Linked DNA regions of Homo sapiens. The protein of the gene in region 1 interacts with the protein of each later gene in a biochemical or structural test. Each region holds a gene or a part of one and is shown in the gene's direction. Other genes may lie near its edges.

Region 1 (7,027 bases):
TTTATTTATTTATTTATTTTTGAGACAGAGTCTCGCTGTGTCACCTAGGCTGGAGTGTAGTGACGCCATCTCAGCTCACTGCAACCTCCACCTCCCAGTTTCAAGCAGTTCTCCTGCCTTAGCCTCCCAAGTAGCTGGGACTACAGGTGTGCACCACCACACCAGGCTAATTTTTGTATTTTTAGTAGAGACGGGGTTTCACCATATTGGCCAGGCTGGTCTCGAACTCCTGACCTTGTGATCCGCCTGCCTCGGCCTCCCAAAATACTGGGATTACAGGCATGAGCCACTGCGCCCGGGTGCTTTTAGTTATTTTTCTTCGATTTTGGGGGGGTTTATTTTGCTGTTTTCTATAAATTAGTGATGAATGTTTGATAAGTATTATGATTTTTATCCTTTTTAGTTTTCTAATGCGTGCATCTAAAGCTCTCAGTTTGCTGTTAACTTGCCTTTTCCTTCTTCCTGTAAGTGTGAATATGTAGGATTGTTATGTTCACTTAAATGGGTTTTTCCTCGTTTGGTTTTTTAAATAGAACTTTTCTTTTTTGTTGATTGGAAAAACAATATAAAATCATCAGTTTTCCAAAGTAAGCATGCTGAAAACACAAGCATGGCATTAGGAAGGCACAGTGCCTGCGGCGCCATCACAGAGATGGCGCTGAGCAGCTGGGTGCGTTTTCTTCCAGACTTTTTCCTTTCTAAAATTTTCATTATTTTAATTGCATATAGACCATGAGTCTTACATGAAAGCAGTCTATTTGGAAATTCTTTACGTTATAGAAGGATGAATTAAAAGCAGACTGTCAACTTTTCCACCTGAAAATTTCATGAAAAAGAAAAGCACCAAAATCATATAAGCCATGTTTCAAGTACTTGTCAGACACGTCTTCATTTACCCATGAATCAGGCTGTTTATAAAGCCATAATGAGGAACTCAAAAGGTGTGAATAAAACCAGAAAGTGATAGAGGGAGACTGTGTGAAGCCTTGGGGAAACACATTTGTGTTCTTGCTAAGTGAACTTCAAACCAACAGATTTAATAAAAGTAGGAAGATGCCTAGCCAAGCATGGTAGTGCATGCTTATAGAACTAGTTACCCAGGAGGCTGAGGCAGGAGGATCGATTGACCCTGGGAGTTCAAGGCTGCAGTGAGCTATGATCATGCCACTGCACTCCAGTCTGGGCAACAGAGTGAGACCCTGTCTCAAAAAAAAAAAAAAAAAAAAAAAGCTGCCTTAATTTTGAATCTGTCAAATACTTAATTTCAAAAGGTTTTTTTTGTTTGTTTGTTTTTTGTTTTTTTTTATTACTGTGGACTGAAGACCATTTTCAGATGTTGAAGTAGGGTTTTTGTTTTGTTTTGTTTTGAGACAGGGTCTCGCTCTGTCACCCAGGCTGGAGAGCAGTGGCATAGTCATGGCTCACTGCAGCCTCGAACTCCTAGGCTCAAGTGATCCTCCTGGCTTAGCCTCCCGAGTAGCTGGGACTATAGGCTCATGCCACCACACCTGGCTAATTTTTAAATTTTTTGTAGAGATGGGGTCTGGCCATTTTGTTCGGGCTGATCTTGAACTCTGGTCTCAAGTGATTCTCCCGCCTCAGCCTCCCAAAGTGCCAGGATTATGGGTGTGAGCCACTGTGCCTGGCCAAAGAAGGGTTGTTAAGATTTTCCCAAATGTATTAGTCTTAGGTACAGCGTTCTAGTTAAAAGATAAAAAGAAGTGAATTATGTTTCACTGGTGCTATTAAATGTTCCACTTTGGTGTCTTATATGTCAGACATCCACACGGCAGGGTGGACTTGGGGTAAGTGTGTCTTGCTCTGCCTCACTTGCTGCTTTCAGAGAGATTTCTAGGCCTCACATAGCTATCATGAAGTTGGCTGTAGAAATATTTATAAACGGCAAAAGCCGTAAGAAAGCTCATGCAATTGTAAAGGTCATACTTGGTTTGTGACCTTCAATTGTTTATTCAGAAAGTAATAAAGCACACTGTCATGACAAAATTACTGTCTGGAAACAGGGAAATAATGAGCCCTGGCACCATTTTTCTGTCCCAGGAATTCCTTTGGAAGCTCTTTGTCATGTAATTATGTTCCATCAGAGTCTTCCAGGCTTTTTCTGTGAATGGTAGTTCACTGCGCCTTTGTTGTGAACAATATGGGATTTGGACTACAACCTCTTGTAACTTCTTTTTCTAGTAATATCATGCCTGCTTTCCTGAGTCTTTTTCTTCTTTCCTATTTGAATTCCATCACAGGAGGGTGTGCTGGGGTGGATGCATGTGTGTTTCGAGTCAGATGCATCCCTGTCCTCCAGGTGCTCATGGTCTGATGGGGAGTCAGATGCGGGCACAGTTCCATTGACTATGGCTTTGGAGAAGACGTTTTGGGGCAGGGCAGCTGCAGGGCACGAACGCGGGAGGGCGTAAGGTGCTGTGGGCGAGGAGGAGCAGCCCCCGGCATGTGCCAGGCAGAGGAGGCTTGGTGCCATCCCTAAGAAGGGCCGTCCCTGTTGCTGTGTCCCCCGCAGGTGATCGCCATGATCAAAGGCCTGCAGGTGCTGATGGGCAGGATGGAGAGCGTGTTCAACCACGCCATCCGGCACACCGTCTATGCCGCACTGCAGGACTTCTCCCAGGTGACCCTTAGGGAGCCGCTGCGGCAGGCCATCAAGAAGAAGAAGAACGTCATCCAGAGGTCAGCCTTCCCCACGCCCTGTGCCCGCTGTGCCCACACGTCCTCGGATGAACTTGGATTCAAACAACAGGAGCGTTAAATTCTCAAAAATGATTTCAATATATTTATCTTCAACCTTCAGATGCCCTCTTGGTGAATTACCTCTAAAAGTAATGCATGGGTCCAATTATTAACCCAAACAATGGACAGTAAGTCAGCTGCCGAGTGTCTAGGGAGTCTGAGGACCCCGGGACAAGGTGCATTTATCCCAGGCTCGCGGTGCCTGTGGTTCATGCATGGTGCCTTATGGGGGTCTCTGCACGGTGGAGCCCTGTTGGTGATGAGGCTGTGTTCCAAACCAGTCGAGAGACATGGCCAGGCTCTGGTCATGTGGGTGACTTCACATTCCTGTTGGTTACTGGGGACAGCCAGCTGCGGGCAGGCGGGGCCCAGCTCTGCTCCGTGCGGAGGCTGTGTTCTGCCCTCTCCCTGCCCACAGCATGACTCAGAGCCACCTCACTGCTGCCCTGGGCTAACAGATGCGAACTGGAGCTCAGGGCAGTCTTCTGGGGGTAGTAATACTCTCCAGAAGGCAGACTCCTTTTTAACTTTCCTGTTGAGCTGGTCCATTACCACATCCCTCCATGGCCCCCAGAGTAATTTGTATTTTCATGGGGGCTGTTCTGAGAGCCTTGTAGTTGGGTGAGGAGATGGTGTGATTGTGAGGCTGGAGGTCTCGGCCTCTGGGCCTTGCTGATCACTTGGTGGGGTGTTCAGTGTCCTGCAGGCCATCAGGAAGACCGTGTGTGACTGGGAGACGGGGCATGAGCCCTTCAATGACCCAGCCTTGCGGGGCGAGAAGGACCCCAAGAGCGGCTTCGACATAAAAGTACCACGCCGCGCCGTGGGACCCTCCAGCACTCAGGTTCTCGTCCCTTGAGCCCCGCCTGCACCCTCTCCCTGGGGGGACCCACCCTGAGCTGTGAGCGGGTGGGGCTGGTGAGGCCCGGGTTAAATGAGGTCCTCGCTGCCTGCTCAGGCAGAGAAAGTGGCGCCTGTGGTTTCTGCTGCTCCTCTGTTTCCCACCCAAGTGAGTTGGGAGCGTGAGGAGACGTGCCTTGATTGTCAGATGTGTCATGTGCACTAAAAAGGAGTCTGACTCCATTTCAACTCCCATCCCAAAAATGTGGGCACAAGTCCACGTGTCTGTATTCATTCTGTGTTTCTTGATGGGTGTTTGAATGTCTGTATAATTTTTACGTTGGGTCTGCAAATGACTGTAGATGGGGCGTGGGAAACTGTGAGGTGCTGCTTGCGTGTGTCATGGTCCTAAGCTGCCCACTGTCCTCTCTCCTGGTGTGTTCAGGCCTCCCCGAGGTGCTTCTCACGACTTTCACACCCGGTTTAATCCACACCGCTGCGTCTGTCCTCCGTCCTGGGGCTGGTCTTCTCCCTCATCTCTGCCGGAGGCTTTTAATCTCTTCTGCCACTCTTCTGGAAAGTCACCAGCAATGCACGCTGCTGGCTCTGCAGGAGGGTCAGGGGGACGGCCCTCGGCCTGTGCGTGGTGCCAGCCACCCTCCCTGCCTCCCTCTGCGTGCGTCCCGTGTCCCTGCCTGGGGTGTGTGTGTCGAGTGACTAACGTCTCTCTCCTGCCTCTCCCTCCTGTCTGTCCGTGTCTAGCTCTACCTGGTGCGCACCATGGCCGAGTCCTTGGGCTCTGCCGAGCTGCTCAGGCAGCTCAAGTCTCTGGGCATGGAGAGGCTCTTGCATGCGGTTAACACGTTTCTGAGGCAGTCGTGCACCTACCTACCCCTTTTAACCTTTGGTGGTAAGACATCATTTGTTTCTCTTGACGTTTATGGCACGGAGGCGAACTGCTCCGCTACAAGTTGTTCTTTCCCCAAAGCAGCAGCAACGTGGCCGCGTAGACAGGCACCCGGACCCCTCGGGGAGCTGGTGCGGGGCCCTCCCGACCAGGGCGTAGCGGAGCAGTCCTTCTCTCATGGGCTTTTTGAGTTTGGCATAACTAATGTACCATGTATATTTTCTCCCCCACAAATGTTTCCTTGGATAATCCAGCTTTACATGGTGAGAACCATGCTAGAGTCCCTCATTGCAGACAAAAGTGGTTCCAAGAAAACCTTGAGAAGTAGCCTTGAGGGGCCCACCATATTGGACATAGAAAAATTTCATCGAGAGTCATTCTTCTACACTCACTTGATAAATTTCAGTGGTAAGAGATACTGCTGAGCAGCATCCGGCCTGGCATGTCCTAACACCACTAACACCGTCTAGAATGCTTCCGCCCGCCTGACCACCCCCTACCCCGTCCCTTGGTGCACCCAGACGGTGACTCGTCCTGCCCTCTGTGGCGGTGGCTGTACGTCCCTGGCCTGAGCTCGCTCCACAGGGCGTGGTCCCTACAAGGGTATAAACTGAGGAGCCCGGGCTGGCCCTGAGACATGAACAGAAAATCTTTTCAACCCATGCGGGGTTGGAAACAGGCGAATGTAATCTGGTGCCTGAGTTGAGACACAGGCATTGATAAATACTAGAAATGGCCCTTGCAGACCATGACGTGGGGGGAAGGTGGCGGGTGCCCTGTGCCAGGCAAGCCCATCCTGGGTGACACCCGGCCACCTTGACCGGCCACCGGTGGGTGCGCTCTCTGCCCTCCGTGTGTCTGTCCCGTGTTCTCATCAAGTCCTCCGTTGTCCACCTCTTGCTCAGAACAGGATCCCTGCTGTCTTGGCTGGGGTGCTGCGAGGTATTGGAGGAAATAGTACCACTTTTGCTGTTAACTCCATGAAAGGATGGAGTTCGAGTGTGGGCTCTTTTAATCTGTCTCATTTTTGCGTTAGACAGACCTCCCTGAGTGTGCCTCTAATGCTGCAGCCTGGACATTGGTTTTTATCCTAAGTGAAAGTGAAGAAGTCCTGTTTTTTTGTTTTGTTTTTTGTTGAGACGAAGTCTTGCTCTGTCACCCAGGCTAGAGTACAGTGGGGCGATCTCAGCTCACTGCAAGCTCCGCCTCCCAGGTTCAAGAGATTCTCCTCCCTCAGCCTCCCAAGTAGCTGGGATTATAGGTGCTCACCACTGCGCCTGGCTAATTTTTGTATTTTTAGTAGAGATGGGGTTTTACCATGTTGGCCAGGCTGGTCTCAAACTCCTGACCTTGTGATCCACCCGCCTCGGCCTCCCAAAGTGCTAGGATTACAGGCGTGAGCCACTGTGCCCAGCCAGAAGTCCTGTTTTTATGTCTCCTTTTGAGAAGAACATTTTTAGGTAAGACACAGTGGCTCATACCTGTTAATCCTAACACTTTGGGAAGCCAAGGCAGGAGAATCACTTGAATTCGGGAGTTTGAGACCAGCCTGGGCAACATGGCGAGACCCCCATCTCTATAAAAAATACAAAATCAGTTGGTGGCACGTGCCTGTGTTCTCAGCTACTTGGGAGGCTGAGGCAGGAGGATCGCTTGAGCCCAGGAGTTGAAGGCTGCAGTAAGCTATGATCGCGCCACTCACCTCCAGCCTGGGTGACAGAGTGAGATAGACTCTGTCTCAAAAAAAAAAAAAAGACACTTTCCCCCTGGATCCCACTGAAGGGCTCACAGGGTTGATGAGGTGGCTTTACCTGCAGCTATGCCCAGCTGGTCCTGTCCCTAGTGCAAGGCCCCGGTGACCCCTCCCCACTCATGTCCATGCTGCATGGCTTGGGGCTGAGCGAGGAGGAGCAGGCACCCAGCACACAGCCCTTGTGTCATCTCTGCTAAAGGTTTTTTTTTGCTTGCGGGAGATAACATGGAGTTGTTTGAACCCTCCCAGAAACGCTGCAGCAGTGCTGTGACCTTTCGCAGCTGTGGTTCCGAGAGTTCTTCCTGGAGCTGACCATGGGCAGGAGGATCCAGTTCCCCATTGAGATGTCGATGCCCTGGATCCTGACGGACCACATCCTGGAGACCAAGGAGGCATCGATGATGGAGTGCGTGTCCTGCGGGCCTGTCTCCAGCCTTTGTGTGTGGTGACCGGGGGTCCTCAGAGGAGGTGGCGGAGAGGCCGGGACTGTTTTTAGTATTGTATTTGAAATCAAGTTTCTGGGCCTGGGCAAAATAGCAAGACCCCAGTCTCTACAAAAATGAGAAAACTTAGCCTGGTGTGGTGGCTGATGCGGGAGGATTGCTTTACCACAGAAATTTGTGGCTGCATTGAGCTATGGATTGCACCACTGCATTCCAGCCTGGCCACGTAGCAAGACCCTGTCTCCAAATAAAAAAAAAAAAAAGAGAAATCATGTTTCCTGGGGTAAAGCTTTAGAGATTAATACAAGTAACTAACCAGTTTCTTGG
Region 2 (7,027 bases), on another chromosome or scaffold:
GGGAAGGTAAATAATAAAATATATTTAAGTTGTCATTTGTTGACAGAGGAGTAAAACTTAAAGAGTTCTGGCAGATTGAGGTCAGTGATACTGTCATTTAAGAATGAGCCCTGGGTGAGCAGGGAATGGGGTAAGACTTCAGGAGAAGCTGACTGGATTTAGTTTTTGTGCAGCAGATATAAGGTTGCCTGGAGTGCTAACACACATTTACCTGTGATTCTGGAAGCTTCTGGTCACATTGGTACCATCTGCCTAGCACATACCAAATTCCAGGCTCCTAGAAGGAAAGCAGGTGTTCAGCGTAGCTGGTTTAGGCACATCGAGCCATTCTTATCAGTAAGGGAATGTCAACCCTCCTGAAATCCAAGTTCTTGGACTCCAGATAAGGGTCAGCAGGGCTTTCTACAGATAGCTGTCTCAGGTCTGTTATGTTGAATTTCTGCATAAAACATAACATGGGTTTTCCTTTGTGCTCATTATAGAAAATTGGGCTGTGGGGTGGAATTACCTATTTTTGTTGTTTTGTTTTTGTTTTTTGAGATGGAAGTTTCACCCTGTCGCCCAGGCTAGAGAGCAGTAGTGCAATGTTGGTTCACTGCAACCTCTGCCTCCTGGATTCAAGCAATTCTCCTGCCTCAGCCTCCTGAGTAGCTGGAGTTACAGGCACCTGCCATCATGCTCGGCTAATTTTTGTATTTTTAATAGAGACAGGGTTTCACCATGTTGGCCAGGCTGGTCTCGAACTCTTGACCTCAGGTAATCCCACCCGCCTTGGCCTCCCATAGTGCTGGGATTACAGGCGTGAGCCACTGTGCCTGGCCCTAAGTTATTTTATTTTATTTTATTTTTTATTTTTTTATTTTTGAGATGGAGTCTCGTGCTGTCACCCAGCCTGGAGTGCAGTGGTGCGATCTTTGGTTCACTGCAACCTCCGCCTCCCGGGTTCAAGTGATTCTCCTTCCTCAGCCTCCCAAGTAGCTGGGATTACAGGCGCCTGCCATCACGTCTAGCTAAATTTTTGTATTTTTAGTAGAGACAGGGTTTTACCATGTTGGCCAGGTTGGTCTCAAACTCCTGACCTCAGGTGATCTGCTCACTTCAGCCTCCCAAAGTGCTGGGATTACAGGTGTGAGCCACCGCGCCCAGCTATTTTTTATTTTTGAGATGGAGTCTCCCTCTGTCACCCAGGCTGGAGTGCAGTGGTATGATCTCGGCGCACTGCAGCCTCCACTTCCTGGGTTCAAGTGATTGTTTTGCCTCAGCCTCCCGAGTAGCTGGGATTACAGATGCCGGCCACCACACCTGGCTAATTTTTTTATATTTTTAGTAGAGATGGGGTTTCACCATTTTGGCCAGGCTGGTTGGTCTTGAACTCCTGACTTTAAGTGATCCACCTGCCTCTGCCTCCCAAAGTGCTGGGATTACAGGAATGAGCCACCACGCCTGGCCCTACGTTATTTTTAAATAGCTTTAAAGATAAAATATGGTTCCATTCTTGTTTTTAATAATAACTGACAGATTTTATGATACCATTGATTTTTGCTTCCGCTGCAGGTTTATTATTATAATGCTCGGACACGTGAATCTGCATGGACCAAGCCAGATGGAGTTAAGGTTATTCAGCAATCAGAACTGACACCTATGCTTGCAGCCCAGGCACAGGTTCAGGCTCAGGCCCAGGCGCAGGCTCAGGCCCAGGCGCAGGCTCAGGCCCAGGCACAAGCTCAGGCCCAGGCTCAGGCTCAGGCCCAGGCCCAGGCCCAGGCCCAGGCCCAGGCCCAAGCCCAAGCCCAGGCCCAGGCTCAGGCTCAGGCACAAGCTCAGGCCCAGGCCCAGGCTCAGGTCCAGGCCCAGGTCCAGGCACAAGTGCAAGCACAAGCAGTTGGAGCTTCCACCCCTACGACCAGTAGCCCAGCACCTGCAGTATCCACTTCAACATCATCATCCACCCCTTCCTCTACCACTTCTACCACAACAACTGCTACTTCAGTTGCGCAGACAGTATCAAGTGAGTACCACTCAGCATGTGTTTTTATATAGGGGCTAGAGACATGAACAAGTAGGGGACTACATTTCATATTGATCCCAGTGTTTCTGGTATTATCCTTTAATACCAGAATTATTTAAAATACATTTTTGACACTAAAACTTTTGGGTTAGAGGAAAACAGGAATTTATATTAACAGGAGAAATTATTTGCCCAGTTGCAGTTTATGAAGCTAAATTGAGAAAGTGCAAAGTTAGCTGTTCCACTTGGCCAACAGTAATGCCGGGCATTGTGGGTTTGCAAAATAAGTGTAAGTCTTGGTCCCTACCTTACAGTTTCCAGTATTCCTAATCGAGGAGGCAAGAATAACACGTGTTAAACAATTAGATATTGGTGTGCAAAACTATACAGTGAGAAAGATGTAAGAATTTGAGAAGTGGATAAATGAGTGGGTGGACTACATGGGTATTTATCATGAAGGAAACGGAGTAGGGTTTAAGCAGGTTCACAGGTAAGGAAAGGATTTTCAGGTAGGAGAAGCAACATGAATAAAGGTCAGGAAAATGATAAATGTAGTTTATGGGTTTTTAGGAAACTTCTGAGGTGAGAGGGTGTTTTTTTTGAAGGGTCTTAAGAACTAGGCAAATAGGTGAGACAGGCACTGGGGGCCTGTATAAATGCAGTATTTTGGAGGATTTTTTTTGGTGTTGGTTTTTTGGGTGGTGATGAAATAAGGGAGGTTTATTAGGAGCTTCTCAGTAATCTCTTTTAGAATAGTTTCTAGACTGGGATGCGAGTAGGTGAATTGAGGAGTTGCCATAGAAGGGAGCAGTCAGAAAGGCAGGAGAATTTTCAGGTGTAAACTCACAGAGGCCCAAAGAGTAGATCTTTTCTGAAAAGGTGAGAGTCGATTAATAGCAGATTTCAGAGATTAAGAGAGGGACACAGCTATTAATTTGCTTAAAAGATTGTTATTAATGTGACAATATTGCTTTCTTTTTGGGGGGTTTCTTTCTTTTTTTCTTTTTTCTTTTTTTTTTTGTATCAATATATGGATGTTGCTCCTTACTCTGCAGGTTGAGACTAAGCCCGAAAGTACTTAAATAATGATTTTTTTATTTGATTATTTGTTATGGCACTTGTCTCAAGATACACAGCTGTCCCTACAGTGTGATTATAATTTGTATTATTTTACTACCAGGATAATTGATAAGAATAAAGAAAAAATGTGGGGTTTTTTTGTGATTACTTCAGGGACTTGGGAATTATTAGTGTGTAAGAAATACGTATAAGAGAGAAATTAATTCACATTGGCTTCAAATTTGAATTTATTTTATTGATAAAAAGCAACTGAAGCAGTCAAGTAAGGTACATATAATATGGGGATAGCCTTTAAAGATCCTCTTAATGGTTTTTAGACATTTTGTAGCGGGGGAATGTACTGAACAGGAAAATATGAATAGTGTTTTACAAATCTGTTTGCTTTTGTAGTGAAGGTGAATTTTGATATGAAAGTATAACAGTCATACTAGCTAGTCTGTTAAGGGTTGTTACCTTTTTATAGGTTTAGTGCTTCCCAAACCTCTGTGGCAAGGCAGGAGACTACCAGTTTTTATGGGAGACCTGTGGTAGTAATGGGAGAAGGGGATTAATAAAAGCAATGTAGTTTTATGTGGAGGCTCTGTGTTGCTTACATTTTCTTTCCTGCGTTCTTAGAAAGGAGAAATAGTAGTGCTTCGTTTTGTTTTAGGAAAGGTGATGAGCTAGATAATTTAACCATACTATATATAGTCCATGTCTGTTTTCAGAGTAGTGTGTCAGTAAGCTCATAGCTGTCTTGTGTCCTGTTTGTCAGTTTTGCTTTACTCTTCAGTGATTGGGAGGACTTTATTCCCAGAAATATAATATAGCAAAATCATATTCTTTTTACTGCTTTTAAACATCAATTTTGATGTTGTCTACGTATTCCAGTGTGTGTTTTTATTTTACTTGATTTAGTATCATAAAGTGTTGTCTTACTGCAATCTTAATATTTCTCCATCTATTATATATAGTCACTTGTCTTTTTTAGTTAAGATCTGAGGCTGGGTTAGTATATTTTGAGGCCTAGTGCTTCACTAGCTACTTTAGCAAATGAAGTTAGTGGGAATTTACCCACTGAAGTCTTAGATACCATTCTCCCAGTTTCCCATTATTTTATTGCTTTTGTTCTTTTCCTGTCGTGACTCATGGCTGCTAATCAAATTCAGAAAATGCTGTGCTGGAAAGTAAGAGGAATGGGTTGTAAATATTTTTTGTCATCTCCATTGGTGTTCTTTTCCACTTGAAATTTGATGCCCTTATTTATTTTCCTGACTATAGTACTTTGGATCACAATTTTAGCAATTATCTGAATACTATAATAATATTTAAATTTTAATTTTCTGAGCTACAGTATAGATCTGTGGGGTAAATGGGACTAAAAATTAAGAATATATTTTAATCCCAGTTGAGCATAAACTCATTTTGTGCAAGTTTGTGAAAAATGATGAAGAAATCCTACTTCTCAGGGAAGTTGGGAACAATGACCAGATACATTTTCAGCCAGTATAGTAGATTACAAATGCTAAATGGTATATGTATGGGACTGGGCAAATGTTGCATGTACTTTGTATTTTTCACACTGTTATAAAATTATATTAATATGATACTGTACCCTAAGGCTAGGTCTATGCTAGACCAACAATTCATTCCTGGGCCCCTGAAGATACTTGTTTGGCCCTGCTGTCTATTTAGCCAAGGTGAGTCCCTCATTAACAAGTACGAAATTGCTCACATCTTCCCAGCCTAAGTGAGTTTTTCATTATTAGAAGCTAGAAAAAGATACTGACAGATTTTGTTGTCAGTTGGATTATTGGGTGATTTGTATTAAATAGTGTGCTTTTGTTTAGAACAAAGTTGGCATAAAGATTGGGAAAGCACTGTTTTCATTTTATTTCATTTGACAAATTCATTCTTAGTCCGATACAGGTAGACATTTTTTTCTTTACATCAAAAAAAGATGAAGTATTTGTTACCAATGAATTACCAAAATGAATTTTATTTTGGAACTAGATGGGTTATGAATAAATAACAAAATTGTTTTGTAACATGTGAGAATTGAAACTGAAAAGTATGAAATAAGGATTTTAGTTTTTAGTTTGATTTTAAATGCAATTACTAGGAATGGGATGTTTTATTTTCGATATTTAAAAATAATGTGTTAGCAGAACCCAAATGATCCTGAATTTCACATTTTCCTGGTCTCTCACAATGGAAACCTCAGTTTAAAAAAATTTTATTTTTTTAAAATAATGAGAGAAACCTGAGTTGTTTTTGATTCCATTCATTCATATCCAGTTAGTCATTAGTTATTTGCTTATCTTTTTCTGTTCTTTTCTTCCTATGCATCTGTGAGGTTAATTCATCAAATGAAACCTGTTTATTACTCTTCCATACAGGAACCTTTAGTTTGCTATATACCCATTTACCTTCATGAAATCACATAAATAATGTGAATGCATTCTTATAAAAAGTTCAAAGTCTAACAAAACGTATATATTAATAGTAAAATGTGAAAGAGGCATTCACAGAGGGTAACTACCATTAATGTATTTTGTCTTGTATTCTACTAGATAATTTTCTCTATATTTACCTAAGTTCTGCCCTTTTCCTATCCATTTAAGGGCATACTCCTTAGCCTTTTGTTCAAGGCTTTCTAATTTCTGCTTCTGGCCTACCTTTCCAGCCACACAACTCACTAGTTTTGTTGGTATGCCTACTGTTTCACTCATTAATTGCTTGCCTTCAATTTTCTAAACAATTCCTTTTGGTTCTTTACTCTTTGCCTTATTCATACTTTTCTCACTGGTTTATTTTTTTCTTCTACCCCTTCCTGCTGTTTTTCTTGTTGAAATCTTAATTTTTCAAGGCGCAGCATCCCAATATAAACTTTTCTATACCCTCTCACAGTTAGAAATGTTCTTTGGGTCTTGATTTTTACTCCTATATGTTTATCCCATTTTACTTTGTATTCATTTTTGTATTTCATTTAAGTATTTTCAAGCTTCTTGAAGATAAGACCTTTTGACAAATTTCTTGCAGTGCATAGAATGGTCCCTTAAATACTTAAATTACTGAATGTGTAAATGATGAATGAATATAGTAAAATGATTTATGAAGGAGTGATACATGTTTTTGTTTTATCTTTTATCAGCACCCACAACACAAGATCAGACCCCAAGTTCTGCTGTTTCAGTTGCCACGCCTACAGTTAGTGTTTCAACTCCTGCTCCTACAGCCACACCTGTGCAAACCGTTCCCCAGCCGCACCCTCAGACGTTACCTCCTGCTGTTCCTCATTCAGTACCTCAGCCAACAACAGCAATACCTGCTTTTCCACCAGTAATGGTACCTCCGTTTCGTGTTCCCCTTCCTGGCATGCCAATTCCACTTCCAGGTAAACCAACAGATTATAATGGTCTTTCCAGCTATGTTTTCATATTGTCAGTTAGTTTGTTCTCATGTGTCTGTTGCGTTTGAAATTTGCCTTGAATCTCACCTGTTTGAAACGTTTTTGAAAGATTCATGGCTAACTGCAATATTTTCTCTTAAGTTTTGGTAAATGTCCTTTTTTTGTTGTTGTTTACATGTCCTAAAATTAGAGCCACATTTAAAGCTACACTTATTTTGGATAATGCCCTCAATGAGTTAAAAATGATTATCTTTTCATGTAAATAATGTTCTAAATGCAATATTTTTGAAGGGTTGAGTTTATGAAGTTGAGAAATCACGTCACAATAGCTAACACAAGTTGGATGATTTATATACAGTGCACTGTTGTAAGCATGTTACATGCATTAACTCCTTTAATTTTTACAACCCATGTTACGAGATAGGTACACAGACAGGTTAAATTACTTGCCCAAGGTCACATAGCTAATAAGTGATGATGTTGAGATTTGAGCCTGTGCCCTCCACATCCAGATAGTAAGCTTTTAATAACTATGTTAATACTGGGAA

What was found. The genes of interacting proteins can lie anywhere in the genome.
Region 2: the proteins of CYFIP1 (region 1) and TCERG1 form a complex in vitro, tested with the Homo sapiens proteins (one study listed by BioGRID).

The regions. Positions count from the first base shown.
Region 1 is NC_000015.10:22,914,362-22,921,388, reverse strand, and holds part of CYFIP1 (cytoplasmic FMR1-interacting protein 1), read left to right. Parts: intron 1-2,530; coding exon 2,531-2,697; intron 2,698-3,453; coding exon 3,454-3,601; intron 3,602-4,075; exon of another isoform or gene 4,076-4,377; coding exon of another isoform or gene 4,378-4,758; coding exon 4,759-4,912; intron 4,913-6,506; coding exon 6,507-6,663; intron 6,664-7,027. UniProt on the Homo sapiens protein: Component of the CYFIP1-EIF4E-FMR1 complex which binds to the mRNA cap and mediates translational repression. In the CYFIP1-EIF4E-FMR1 complex this subunit is an adapter between EIF4E and FMR1.
Region 2 is NC_000005.10:146,457,330-146,464,356, forward strand, and holds part of TCERG1 (transcription elongation regulator 1), read left to right. Parts: coding exon 1-6; intron 7-1,554; coding exon 1,555-2,008; intron 2,009-4,688; exon of another isoform or gene 4,689-4,767; intron 4,768-6,221; coding exon 6,222-6,464; intron 6,465-7,027. UniProt on the Homo sapiens protein: Transcription factor that binds RNA polymerase II and inhibits the elongation of transcripts from target promoters. Regulates transcription elongation in a TATA box-dependent manner.